3 linked regions of the Homo sapiens genome follow. The protein of the gene in region 3 interacts with the protein of the main gene of each other region in a biochemical or structural test. Each region holds a gene or a part of one and is shown on either strand. Other genes may lie near its edges.

Region 1 (3,702 bases), on a different chromosome or scaffold from region 3:
GAATGATATTTTAGTATTTTCTTTGCCTGACAGAAGTCAAAACAATCTGATCAAGCATATTTATTTTCCAGTAACACAAAAACAAAACAAAACAAAACTCAATGTTGATAGAAACAACTTTCAAAACAGGACAGACTGTAGAACTAGAAAAAGTCGAGGTGTTTCTATAATCTATACTACACTGACATAAAATTCAAAGGTGTTAAAAGTAATTATCAGACTATTTTACCATTATTAGTAATAACAAAAAAGGCAAATTGTAAAAATATTTTTATTTTATTTTACGTTTAAGCTCTGTTAGATTTGATGTAAACATAAAAATATTTTTTAAGGGCCAGGCACAGTGGCTCGTGCCTGTAATCCCAGCACTTTGGGAGGCCGAGGCGGGCGGATCATGAGGTCAGGAGATCGAGACCATCCTGGCTAACATGGCAAAACTCCGTCTCTACTAAAAATACAAAAAAAAAAAAAAAATTAGCTGGGCATGGTGGCGGGCGCCTGTAGTCCCAGCTACTCTGGAGGCTGAGGCAGGAGAATAGCATGAACCCAGGAGGCAGAGCTTGCAGTGAGCCGAGATCACACCACCGCACTCCAGCCTGGGCGACAAAGCGAGACTCCATCTCAAAAAAAACAAAAAAACTCTCTCTATATATATATATGTATGTAAATAAAACATTCAAAAACTGAAACTATAGTAAAAATCTAATCCAATGACATAATTGGGTAATTCAACTAGATTTGCAAGTATCAGATAATGACAGTATATTATGACATTAGAAAACAATATTAAATTCTAGACCAAGATACAATCCAGAGCATACACTACTGTGGGAAGAGGGTAGAAACTGCCTCATAAGGGGAAGGAAAAAAAACACCATACTATATCCCGCTTTATACAAACTAAATATTAGTTGAAATCTTATCAATCATCAAAAGTTACTAGAATGAACCACAGCAGCTAAAAAAGTTTCATTTAGTCTCTATAAAGATCACAAATCTTTAATGTGGTTTCAAAGTAAAGACATATCACTTTAAAGGAAATTAAATCGTGGTAGTACCTAATTGAAACAGCAATAAAAAATTATAAACAGTGTTTGGTTCAATGAGGTACTTCAGGTCACACTTTTAAAAGAATCCAAAGACTAAGAACAACATTTGATAAATAAAAGATGGTGCATCAAGGAAGGAAAATATGAAATAATATATGGTGATTTTAAATTGGAAAATCTATATTTTTATCAATATAAAATGTAATAATTCTTTTGATATAATAGCAATTAATTTTTAGTGATTTTAAAAACAGAATTACTTCACAGTAATTATAAATTTAAGAACCAGTGGAGAGCATCACATAAACAATAATTTGCTGCAACACAAAATCAATTAAATATTAATTGTTCTCCAAGTAAGGAACTACACACCAATTCTACATACTGGTGTTAGCATTATAAGATAATCTTTGATTTAATTTTTCTTAGACTCATTCTCAGCTGAAATGTGAACATACGGAGGAGAAGCTGGTAAAATTTCCTATGTCTATTTGATTTACTGAGCACGAAAAAACTGAAAGCTAAGAGAAGTGGAGCTGAGAAAGATCTAGAAAATGTAGAGCTTTGAGAAAAACTTTTTTAACAATATATATCCAAGCATGATTCAATAATAAGTAAATGTATCACAATGTATAAGAAGTTTGAGAAAAACATAAAGTTTCATTATATATTGCTACATTAATATACAAATATAGAGTAATCCTCAACCAATAATTCAATTTTTAAAACATTTCTTAATAAACAAAATTGAATAGGTTCCAAAATTTCCTTATTTGCTAGTTATGTAGAACTTAGAAAACAGGCACAACCATCCCACCACACTGCCTCAAGTGGACTAACACTAATTTTTTATTTTTCCCTCCACTGTCACTGGAAATGAGTTAGTTCTGCCCCCAACATCTCTACTACCCCCAACATGCCTCCACTCCCAGCTCAGTCTCCTTCAAAAAATTCAATGGTAATGGTTTCCAGTTAGGACGACAGGCTATTTATTATCGTACTTATTATACTTAAAACATTGGTCATCTATCATCTCCTTTCTTTTTACTTTTTGAGGGTTCCAGGTATTAACTCTACAGTTTCTTTTTCTGGTCTGTCCTCTGTTGCCTGATTCGCACTACTCTCCTCCCTTGACCTATTGCTTTGCTGGTCTGAGAGCTTCTCTCCAATCCTAGACTCCCTAAGGCAAACTTTGAAGATTTCGCCGGGCGCGGTGGCTCACGCCTGTAATCCCAGCACTTTGGGAGGCCGAGGCGGGCGGATCACGAAGTCAGGAGATCGAGACCATGCTGGCTAACATGGTGAAACCCTGTCTCTACTAAAAATACAAAAACAAAATTAGCCGGGCGTGGTGGCAGGCGCCTGTAGTCCCAGCTACTCGGGAGGCTGAGGCGGGAGAATGGCGTGAACCCGGGAGGCGGAGCTTGCAGTGAGCCGAGATTGCGCCACTGCACTCCAGCCTGGGTGACAGAGTGAGACTCCGCCTCAAAAAAAAAAAAAAAAAAAAAAAAACTTTGAAGATTTCAAGGGTTGGACTTGCTATGAAAGACAATCAAGTGAAGACTAATGATCCACCTCCTCACCTCCCTCACCCTACGCCCATATTCTTTCCACAGAGACAAAATTGCTTTTACCAGTGACATCAAGAACTATTCAAGATTCACCTACATAGTAATTATCCCAGGAATTTCACTTGCAGCTACTACTGTACTGAGTCTCCCAATTTAGCGAAGAAATGAAATTAAGTAAAAATGTGGCCAAGCGCAGTGACTCACGCCTGTAATCCCAGCACTTTGGGAGGCCAAGGCAGGCGGATCACGAGGTCAAGAGATTGAGACCATCCTGGCCAACAGATCGAGACCATCCTGGCCAACATGGTGAAACCCCGTCTCTACTAAAAATACAAAAATTAGCTGGGTGTGGCGGTGCACGCCTGTAATCCCAGCTACTCGGGAAGCTGAGGCAGGAGAATCGCTTGAACCCGGGAGGTGGAGGTTGCAGTGAGCCGAGATCGCGCCACTGCACTCCAACCTGGCAACAGAGGGAGACTCCGTCTCAAAAAAAAAAAAAAAAAAGATGTACTCTACTTTTTCTCAGACTCCAAGAGTACCATACTTTGTCCTAAAGTAATACAGCATCTGAGTATGCGGTCTGGGTTACAGCAAGGTCCTGGACTGAACATTTAAAACAAGAATAATGACAACAATAATACACACACACATATTCTTAATAAAATGTTCTTTAATGTGATATATATATGTGTGTGTGTAAAACGTCTGGTGAAAAAAGAAAAAAGCAGAAACTGAAGATTTCTAACTGAAAAAATTCTTCTGATCATCCATGTAAAAACTTCCACAAGTAGTCAACAATAAAATGTTACTTAAATATTACTAATGAGACATTCATGAATTTGAATAAACAAAATGCTTCATGCTTGTAAAGAACACAATATATAACTTTAAAAATCCCATTTATCTAAAAATATACACACTATCTACAATACAGCAGAAAAACATTTCCTTTTTCATATATTAAAACTAAATGTTACCAACTAATGTGACAATTAGAATTTTCAATCCTATTTAAAACTTTGGGCCCGTAAAGGAAAATGAACACCACAACAGTTAAAATGTAGATTTTCGGGGCGGGAAAC
Region 2 (4,136 bases), on a different chromosome or scaffold from region 3:
AGCGGGCAACCAGGGTAATGATCCCCACCCCCATCAAGTTCTCCCAAACCTCACTGGCTGAAGAGTTCAGCTCAGCAAAGCAAATCCTCTCCATCTGCTTGCAGCCTCAGTGCCCCGCCCCCTCCTGTGTCCCTCCGCCTCCCTTGCCTGCCCCGCCACTGCCCGCCCAGCTCTGCCTTTTGTCTACCTCTGGGGCCTTTTCCTGAGGACTCTCTCTCCTGGGCATCCCTCCCAGCTTCCCCTTCAGCTTCTAAGGTCTTTGTTTCTCTCCATCTGTGTCTCCCTAATCCTCAGGCCCCTACTTGGCCAAACACTACACCTTAGCACATTCCCAGCACCCCTCCCACTTTCTGCCCTCCCCGCCCCAAAACAGTTCAAGTAGTTTCCTCTATCCCTGCCTCCCATGGTGTATGCATGGGTGTAGTGGAAGTAGCCATTTACGGTGGAAATGTAGGTGAAGTAGAAGAGAAAACAAGGAGGGGAAGAGTAGCAGGCGTGGGAAACAAGGAGAGAGCAACAAACAAGGTCTGTGACTGGGGTGGGATAGGAATGGAGAAGAGGGAGGGACCAGTCTAGGAGACCCTCCCACCAGCCAGCCCCTCTCCTTCACCCCAAGATCCTAGCAGGCATAGGTTGACGTCCTGTGCTGATATGGCACATCTGAGTCCCTTCTGGACACTACACTAGCCTCCCAATTCAGATTCCAGTGCTCTCCCCACCCACTCCTTGGCAGGCACAGTGTAACACGGTAGGTGTCCTTGTGTGATCTGATCTGGTGTTGGTGTGCCACGCTGTGTATCTGATTCCATGTGAATGGAAGTCTCCTGTGTGAGATCACCCTGGGCGGGGGGGTCCTTTCTGGAACAGGATAGGGGATAGGAGAGGAGCCTGGTGCAGAACGGCTGCCCTGGGGGGCACTCAATTCCCTTCTCCCTTTAAGGGTAGCTCAGAACTCTTCACTCTCACTCCAGAGAGGGTGCCCTTCCACCCCACCGTGAGGTCTTCATTTCTGTGCCACAAGGTCAGTATGGCATTTCCACTACCTAGGGGGCTCTTCCCTACGTCCTGGGCCAGGAGAGCAAAGAGCTGGTCAGCTTCTCTCTGGGGGCCCCAGCACCAAAAGTCTGTATGGCCCTGGCCTGACTTTCCCATCTGGGCTGATGCAGGGAGGGAGAATACCAGAGACCAAAGTTCAAGGGGCCGGGCCCTCTCCTCCCCTGTTCTGTCCTTCTGGTCACTGTCCTTCCATGATCCCTTTTCCAGGAGAATATGTGACCTGGGCCCTAGGTCTTCTGCTAAGCAGCCCTCTGGCCTCATTTACTCAACACAGGCACACACACCGACACCGGCCGACAGCCATGCACAGACACAGTTAGAGAGGAGCACCCACGCGATGGGAGACACATGGCCCAGCGTTGGGCCATTCTGGTCCACACTCTTGAGACAGCACGGGAGCACAGCGGAGCCACTCAGCACTCACAAAGCGACAACATGGCTCCAGAACATCTACGTCTCCACATGCACACATGTAACTGACACGGGCAGTCCCACACACTCGCTGGATTTCAGACATACAAAGACACCTACTCAGTGAAGTCACATGCCACCGCACAGCCCGCCGGAGGGCCACACGGGCGCACCTTGGCAGATCGCACACAGCCCCTCTCCCACCGCCGTTAATCCCATTGGCTCCCCCCGTTTCACTCCGCGGGCCTCCGGGAGACCTGTGTGACGGCCCCTCAGCAACCACCGCGCCCCCCCCCCCCGCCATACACATACACACACAAGATAGGGCTCCCAGCCCCCAAACCCCGGCCGCGTTAATTTCCCAAAGCGACACTCCGCAGGTTCCCTGGGGAAATTAGAGGAAGGCTGGAAGAGAGGCAAGGGCGAACGGATGGGGCCGGGGAAGGGAGCTGATGAGGGCGAGGACAGCTCGACGCAATGCCATGCAATGCCCAGCCTCGGCTTTTTCGAAGGCTAGTCCTGCCCCGCTTCTAATTTTTAGGAATTCGAGATTCTTTCAGTGTGTATGCGGGAAGGGGACGATGAAGAGAAAAGAAAGCTGAAAGCCAGCTGAGGGGAGGGAACGAGAAAACAGAGGCGGCCGCCGTCCGGGGAGAGAAGCGAGCGACGGTCGGGCCGCGGGGAGGGGCCCGGAGGAGCAGCCTCCAGGGAGAGTCCTGTTTACACTTGAGGATCTCAAACCGCTTAGCGAGGAAAGGTGAGGTCAGGTTGCAAGCAAAGACGCGGCAGCGGGGCGCAGGGAGGGGGCGCGGCAAAGTGAGACTCGGGGCGTTCGGACGGGAAGCCGGACGGGATCCGGTCAGCGAGGTGGGGCCGAAGAGGGGTGGGGACGGCTGCGGGGGACGGCGCGACCGGAGCGGCGAGGCCGGGCGCCGTGGTGCGCGCAGGGCAGCTAGAGGGCGCTGGCGCTAGCCGCGCGGAGCCGGGAAAGGAGCTCCGGGCCGGGGAGCGGTGGGAGGGCGCAGTGGGGTCCGCCAGGACCCGGGCGCAAGGGCCGCGCGGGGCCGTCGGGGGCGGCCTGGGGCGAAGGACCGCGCCGGGCCCCAGGGCTGCGCGAGGTCCGGGCCGCCGCCGCCCCCGCCCGTACCTTGGCGCTCAACTCGGCCGCTGCCTCCACGCTTTTCTCCGACATGGTGCCGGGGCCGGGGCCGGGGCTGGCGGGGAGCCGGGGTCCCGGGGCCGAGACGGAGGGGCCCTGGACGGCGGAGGGTGGCCGCGGCCGGAACCTGGCGCGGTGGCGGCGGCGGCGGCGACAGCGGCAGCGGCGGCCGCTCGGCAAGCTGGGTCTCTGGAAGAGGCGGCAGAGGCGCGCGGGGTGGGGCGGGGGTGGGTCTGGAGCGGAGACCCGCAGGGCTGCGGCCGTCCGGAGGGCGGGCGGAAGGGCGGTGCAGGCGGTGGCCGGCGCGCTCGGCCGCGGTAGCTCGATCCCGGGCTCGCCGCCCCCGCACCAGCAGAGCTGCCGCCGACCAGCCGCTGCCGCCCCCGGGAAGGGAACCCGCTTATAAGGCGGCGCTGCCCGACGGGAGGGGCTTCCCAGGGGTGGGGCAGGCGGGAGCGGGGAGGAGAGGAGAGGGGAGGGGGATGAAAGAGGAGGTTGGAGAGGTGGGGATAGGAGGATGAAAGCGAGGGGAGGGAGAGCTAGGGAGTCGGGAGGGAGGACGAGACCAGGAGGGGGAAATGGAGAGACTGACGGCCGCGGAGAAAGAGTGGGGCGAGGAGGTGGGAAGGGGTGGGGTTCCTGCGGGGAGGCACCTTTCCAAATCCCAACCTACTGCCTGCGAATGTGGAGTCTGGCTTTTGGGGGCGGACTGGAGAGGTGGCCAGAATCCTACTGACCCCAAAAAAAGCCCTGGGATTTTGCCAAGGGGTGGGGTGAGGGGAGCAGATGGGAAGATAGGGCAGGTATTTGAGAAACCAAAAGCTTAAAGAAGAGGAAGAGGGTTCGGGCGCTCCTTCCACACCACGCCGGATTTCCCCCTCTCATCCTCCATCCACATTCTCTGGATGGCCTTGAGGAGGGATGGGAGGGCAGAAAGGGCGGCCCAGCCTTCTGTCCCGCCAGATTGACACTTGTGACCCTTGCCGGGTGCCTCCCTTCCTGGCCCCGTGCTGTGAGCCGGGGGGAGTCAGGCCCCCTGGTCTCCTTTGCTGTCTTCCAGCTCTCTTCCATCTTCTACCTCTCTTATTCGCCCGTCTCACCTCACTTTTATTCGCCTGGTCCTTCTATTTCTCTTCATCCGTCCTCAGTCATCTGTACCTAGACCCCTCCTTCACAACCAATTATAACTCGAATCGCTCCCATTCTTCTCTCACCTCTTCTCCACTCCTCACTGACTCTCTTCTGCCCTTCCACCTCTGGTCTCTTTCCCTATCTTTCCCAGACAACCCTGCTCTTGTCTTATCTGAGTCAGGCACCTGGCCCTCTATTCTTGGCTGGCTTTCCTCAACTCCTCTTTCTGTCCTCATTTTTTACATTTTCCATCCTTCAGCTTTTCTCATTCCTCTGCTGCCATCTTCCCTAGCCTTTCTGGGTTATATTTGCCTCCTTTGCAAATATAATACAGGTCCAGGTCTGGAGTTCCAGCCCCACCCTATTCCACACATCCTCA
Region 3 (4,145 bases):
TCAGCCACCCTGCAAAGCATCCTAACTAGGGTGGCTTTCATAAATAAATATGCCCCTACATTCTTTGTAGCCAAAGGTTATAAATCCCTTGCAAGGGTGGGTGGACCACAGTAAAGAGATCTGGGAGCATATTTTTACATTGGCAAGAAAAGCAAAATGTCACTCAACTAAATTTAAGATTGTTCACATACATCTGCTACCACCAGAATGTTATTTAAAAAAGAAAAGAAAGAAAGAAAAAGAAATGTGAATATCTAACAGTTTAGCTCTGAACATTTTTCTACTGTTCAGGTGACTGTTTCAATAATGATTGAAAGGCTATCAAAACAGAAGCAAACATGTGCTTGTAGTTTGTCATACAGCAACAATTTCTGCTTAAATAAATACATAGACAACAATATCTCAACTACAGAAAAATGTGTGTGCTGGATAATAGTTATAAATATATCACTAAAATGTTTGGAAAAAAAGCAGCAAATATAAAAGTTACACTTCTGACAATATCACAAATGAGTCACATCCTTCAGAGAGACAGAGACAAAGATCAAATAAATTTCTGAATCAGAATAAAATCTGACACCATTTCACAGCAAGCAGATGCGTTTTATGACATGAGTCTTGGATTCTTCTGGATTAGAATGTACAATTTAATAAACCAGAATGATTTGTTCAAAGTTCATCAGGGGCTGCAAATGGATACAGTTTGCCATAAGGGAACAATTTAAGTTTAAAATCACAGAGGTACATGCAATGGTGTGTGAAAAGTCCTACTTACCTATTAAACCAAAGCAGAATAATAAAATTTTGGGAAATGAAACTTAAAAAAACTGAAATCATAAATCTACCTTTCATTCTTTTCAAAAACTGAGGCCTTTTAAATACTGACATCAATTATGGAAATTATCAGTGGATCTATTGAGCAAAGATGACAAAAATGTATACTAAGGTCTCCTTTATATAAAATTGTTACATCCTCTAAAATTATGCACTTCATACACTGTCAAAATGTAAGTACCATTTATCCCAAAATCAAATGCCAAATTACTGAAGAGTTAAGAAGCAACAGTAATTCACTTGGAAATTATCCATAACAGAAAGAATCCATTATATTTGAATTGGAGGTCAAGCTGAGTAAATTGCATTTACTACTGGTTTTTAAATATGAAGAAAACTACTAAAGGAAATAAATTTTATAATACAATTATATAAAAATATATTTTATTAGGCTTTAAAATAAATGATTCTGCATAAATAAATGTTCCAAACTAAGTTTAATTGGCCTGAGAAAAGAATCATGATTTGTTAAAGTTACTTTTTAATGACAATATGTTCTCTTAGAAAAAAATTTGAATAGCTAATCAAAATATCTGTTGGGGTCATTCTGGGTAGTAATTCAAAGTATTATTTCTTCGTTGGTTGTGTCATATAATAATATCATAGAACTACAAATTTGATAGTCTAAAAGATGGAGTTAAAAGATGTTTTTGAAGAAACCATTTTTTTTATTTCTGGTTTGAAGATTTAAATTGAACATTTTGAAACTAATTATTTTCAATAATGCTAAAAGTACTATTTCAATAGCCCATATATAATTTTATAAAATTGTCTGTTATTTCTACTTATAATAAGCTGCCACTCTATACATTTCATACCAATAAATTTGAGATTTTTTAAGTCATCAAATATCTCCCATGTATTGACATTAGAATACCTAGACATTTGTTCTTTTGGTAACTGAAAGTATAATCTAAATTGAAAAAGTTTAACACTGATCTTCCCAAACTGTACAAATCAGGAACTACTTTCCAAAGAGAGTCTTGTGCATACAAAGGGCAACAGATTGTACATTTGGAACTATTTACATGTGTATATTAAAATGCTATTTCCAAAGTCCACTGCAATGCAATTAGTTTTGGTGCACTACAAAAAAGAACACTCAAACTTAGATTCTCAAAATTCAAAGCACCAAATATCCACATACTAACTATGCAATGAGAAAGTATTTTTTTCAAATGAACATTCCAATATACCTTAAATGCTTAATTCTGAATTTAAAAATGTAATGAAGGCCATCAGCTTAAATTTAAAGTTACTTAGTTCGACTTTGAAGTTTTCTCTCTTCATTTGTAAAAATATGATACACCTAAAATAGATGGTAGACATTTGTAAAACTTACACTGTCAGAGTGCTTGCCCTGGTCACAGTCCCACGTTGTAACACGCTGCCCGGACCTCTCCATGGTGCTGAAGAGTTACTCTTGCCCATTTGAGAGGGAAGAGTTGTTTATTCAAATTGGCTTTGAAAGAAATCCGTAAAGGGTCACCTGGGTTAGCTAGTAAGGTTGTCTAAAAAATTTCTATAACACACACTAAATAAGTGATGCTTTTGCCCTTCGGTTATCAACCACCATGCTCAAGCAGCTCAAAGTAGATTTTGGAGCAGAAATCTTCAAGTATTGGCAAAAAAGAGCGAGAGCTTTTTGGGAGATGAAGTTTGCTGATTTTTGCCAGTGTTCTTCAAATTGATAAAACACACAGAGAAGACAAGGCTACTCGGAGAACAGAGGATTCCAGAAAAGTTCTTGATCTTAATGCAGAAAAGAAGATCCCATTAGTCCAAAGCAGCCGATTCACTTCATGCTATCATCTGATCTACTTTTCGATTAAAAATAATACAATAAAATAGAGTTAAGAATTCCACAAGGCACTGCACACACCATGTAAACAGGTCTGCCTCATTCTCGCCCCAGCCTCGGTCTGCTGAAGATTATCACAGCAGAAATCAGGCTCTGTGGCTTTCACAGATTATCTCTTTCTGAGGCTGAAACGTATAAAGAGCCACATGACACCCAATGATGTCATCTCTAAAGCAGGTCACAGTTGCTGCTGTATATAGATAAAGTCCTTCTAGTGAAGTATTTAGCATAGTGATTTTCTTGAAAATCTACTTATATTAAATAGCATGGTCTTCTATCAAAATACTTAACCCTATCGATACAGTGCCATGAAGAGAAAATCAATTTGCTGCTCATATGTGAGATGAAGCCTCCCCTTTAAGCTAAGATCAGCTTCTGGTACTGCTTTAAAAAATGAATAACTGCCATTAATTTGTGGTGAATATAGTGAAGAAGGGCTTTTCCCTGGAGAAGCTGCTGTGGGAACTAGAGGCTCTCTAAGGATATAGAATCTACTTCTAAACACCTCTCAGAATATTTAGCATGTCCAAAAATTATTTTTTAATTCAATCCATAAAGATTGCAAAATAAAAATTAAGGAAACCATCTTCAACTTCTAACAACAGTTTATGTAACAAAATTAAAAAGTTATATAAACATAAAAACATCTTACTATCTCTGAAACGATTGGAGTATATTTTCAAGTGTTGGTTAAAGAAAAACGTTCTTTAACTCACTATTTTTAGATGTTTTTCAGTTCTGAATAAAGTAAAAATAGAAAATTAGCTATATTATTACTAATCTGCACACCTAACTGGTAATTCATAGTACACATATTCTTTTAAAGAATGTTTAAATGAGCAATGTCCATGATCATTCTTTGCAACATATTTTTCTCTTTCTATTTAGTCATATGCCATAATTTATGATTTTCAGCCATAATTGTCATTTATGCCAGTTAATAAATTATCTAATCCCCTTTCATGCCAACTAAACAATTCTTATAGCCCAAGTGAAGAATAACTTGAAACTAATCTAATTAGTGCTTATTAAATGTATTCCCTCCCTTAAGGCCAAATGGATCAAACAAAAGCAGCTTTCCTTTAAGAGCACAGTATTCTGTCATATTTTTGAGAAAAAACCATAAATCTGAGGAGAAAACAATTTTCCACACAACCAGTGCCACTGAACAAATTCTATTAAAGCAATGGTGATTGTTCTGGCATCTCATCAGGAAAATATTGCCTCACCAGCTTCTCACCGCGTATCTAAAATATCCAAATAAAAATTGAGAATGCTAAAATATCCAAATAAAATATCCAAATAAAAATTTATTTGGATAAATTTTTATCCAAATAAATTTATGCTAAATATCCAAATAAAAATTGAGAAAAATATCCAAATAAAATTTGGAATATTTTATTCCAAAGGCTAAAATATCCAAAAAAAAATTGAGAAAAAAAATTGATCA

What was found.
Region 1: the proteins of SCHIP1 (region 3) and ZC3H13 form a complex in vitro, tested with the Homo sapiens proteins (one large-scale study listed by BioGRID).
Region 2: the proteins of SCHIP1 (region 3) and PTMS form a complex in vitro, tested with the Homo sapiens proteins (one large-scale study listed by BioGRID).

The regions. Positions count from the first base shown.
Region 1 is NC_000013.11:46,046,045-46,049,746, forward strand, and holds part of ZC3H13 (zinc finger CCCH domain-containing protein 13), read right to left. Parts: intron 1-3,702. UniProt on the Homo sapiens protein: Associated component of the WMM complex, a complex that mediates N6-methyladenosine (m6A) methylation of RNAs, a modification that plays a role in the efficiency of mRNA splicing and RNA processing.
Region 2 is NC_000012.12:6,765,229-6,769,364, reverse strand, and holds the start of PTMS (parathymosin), read right to left. Parts: upstream 3,003-4,136; 5' UTR 2,660-3,002; coding exon 2,615-2,659; intron 1-2,614.
Region 3 is NC_000003.12:159,271,915-159,276,059, reverse strand, and holds the start of SCHIP1 (schwannomin-interacting protein 1), read right to left. Parts: upstream 2,817-4,145; 5' UTR 2,240-2,816; coding exon 2,177-2,239; intron 1-2,176.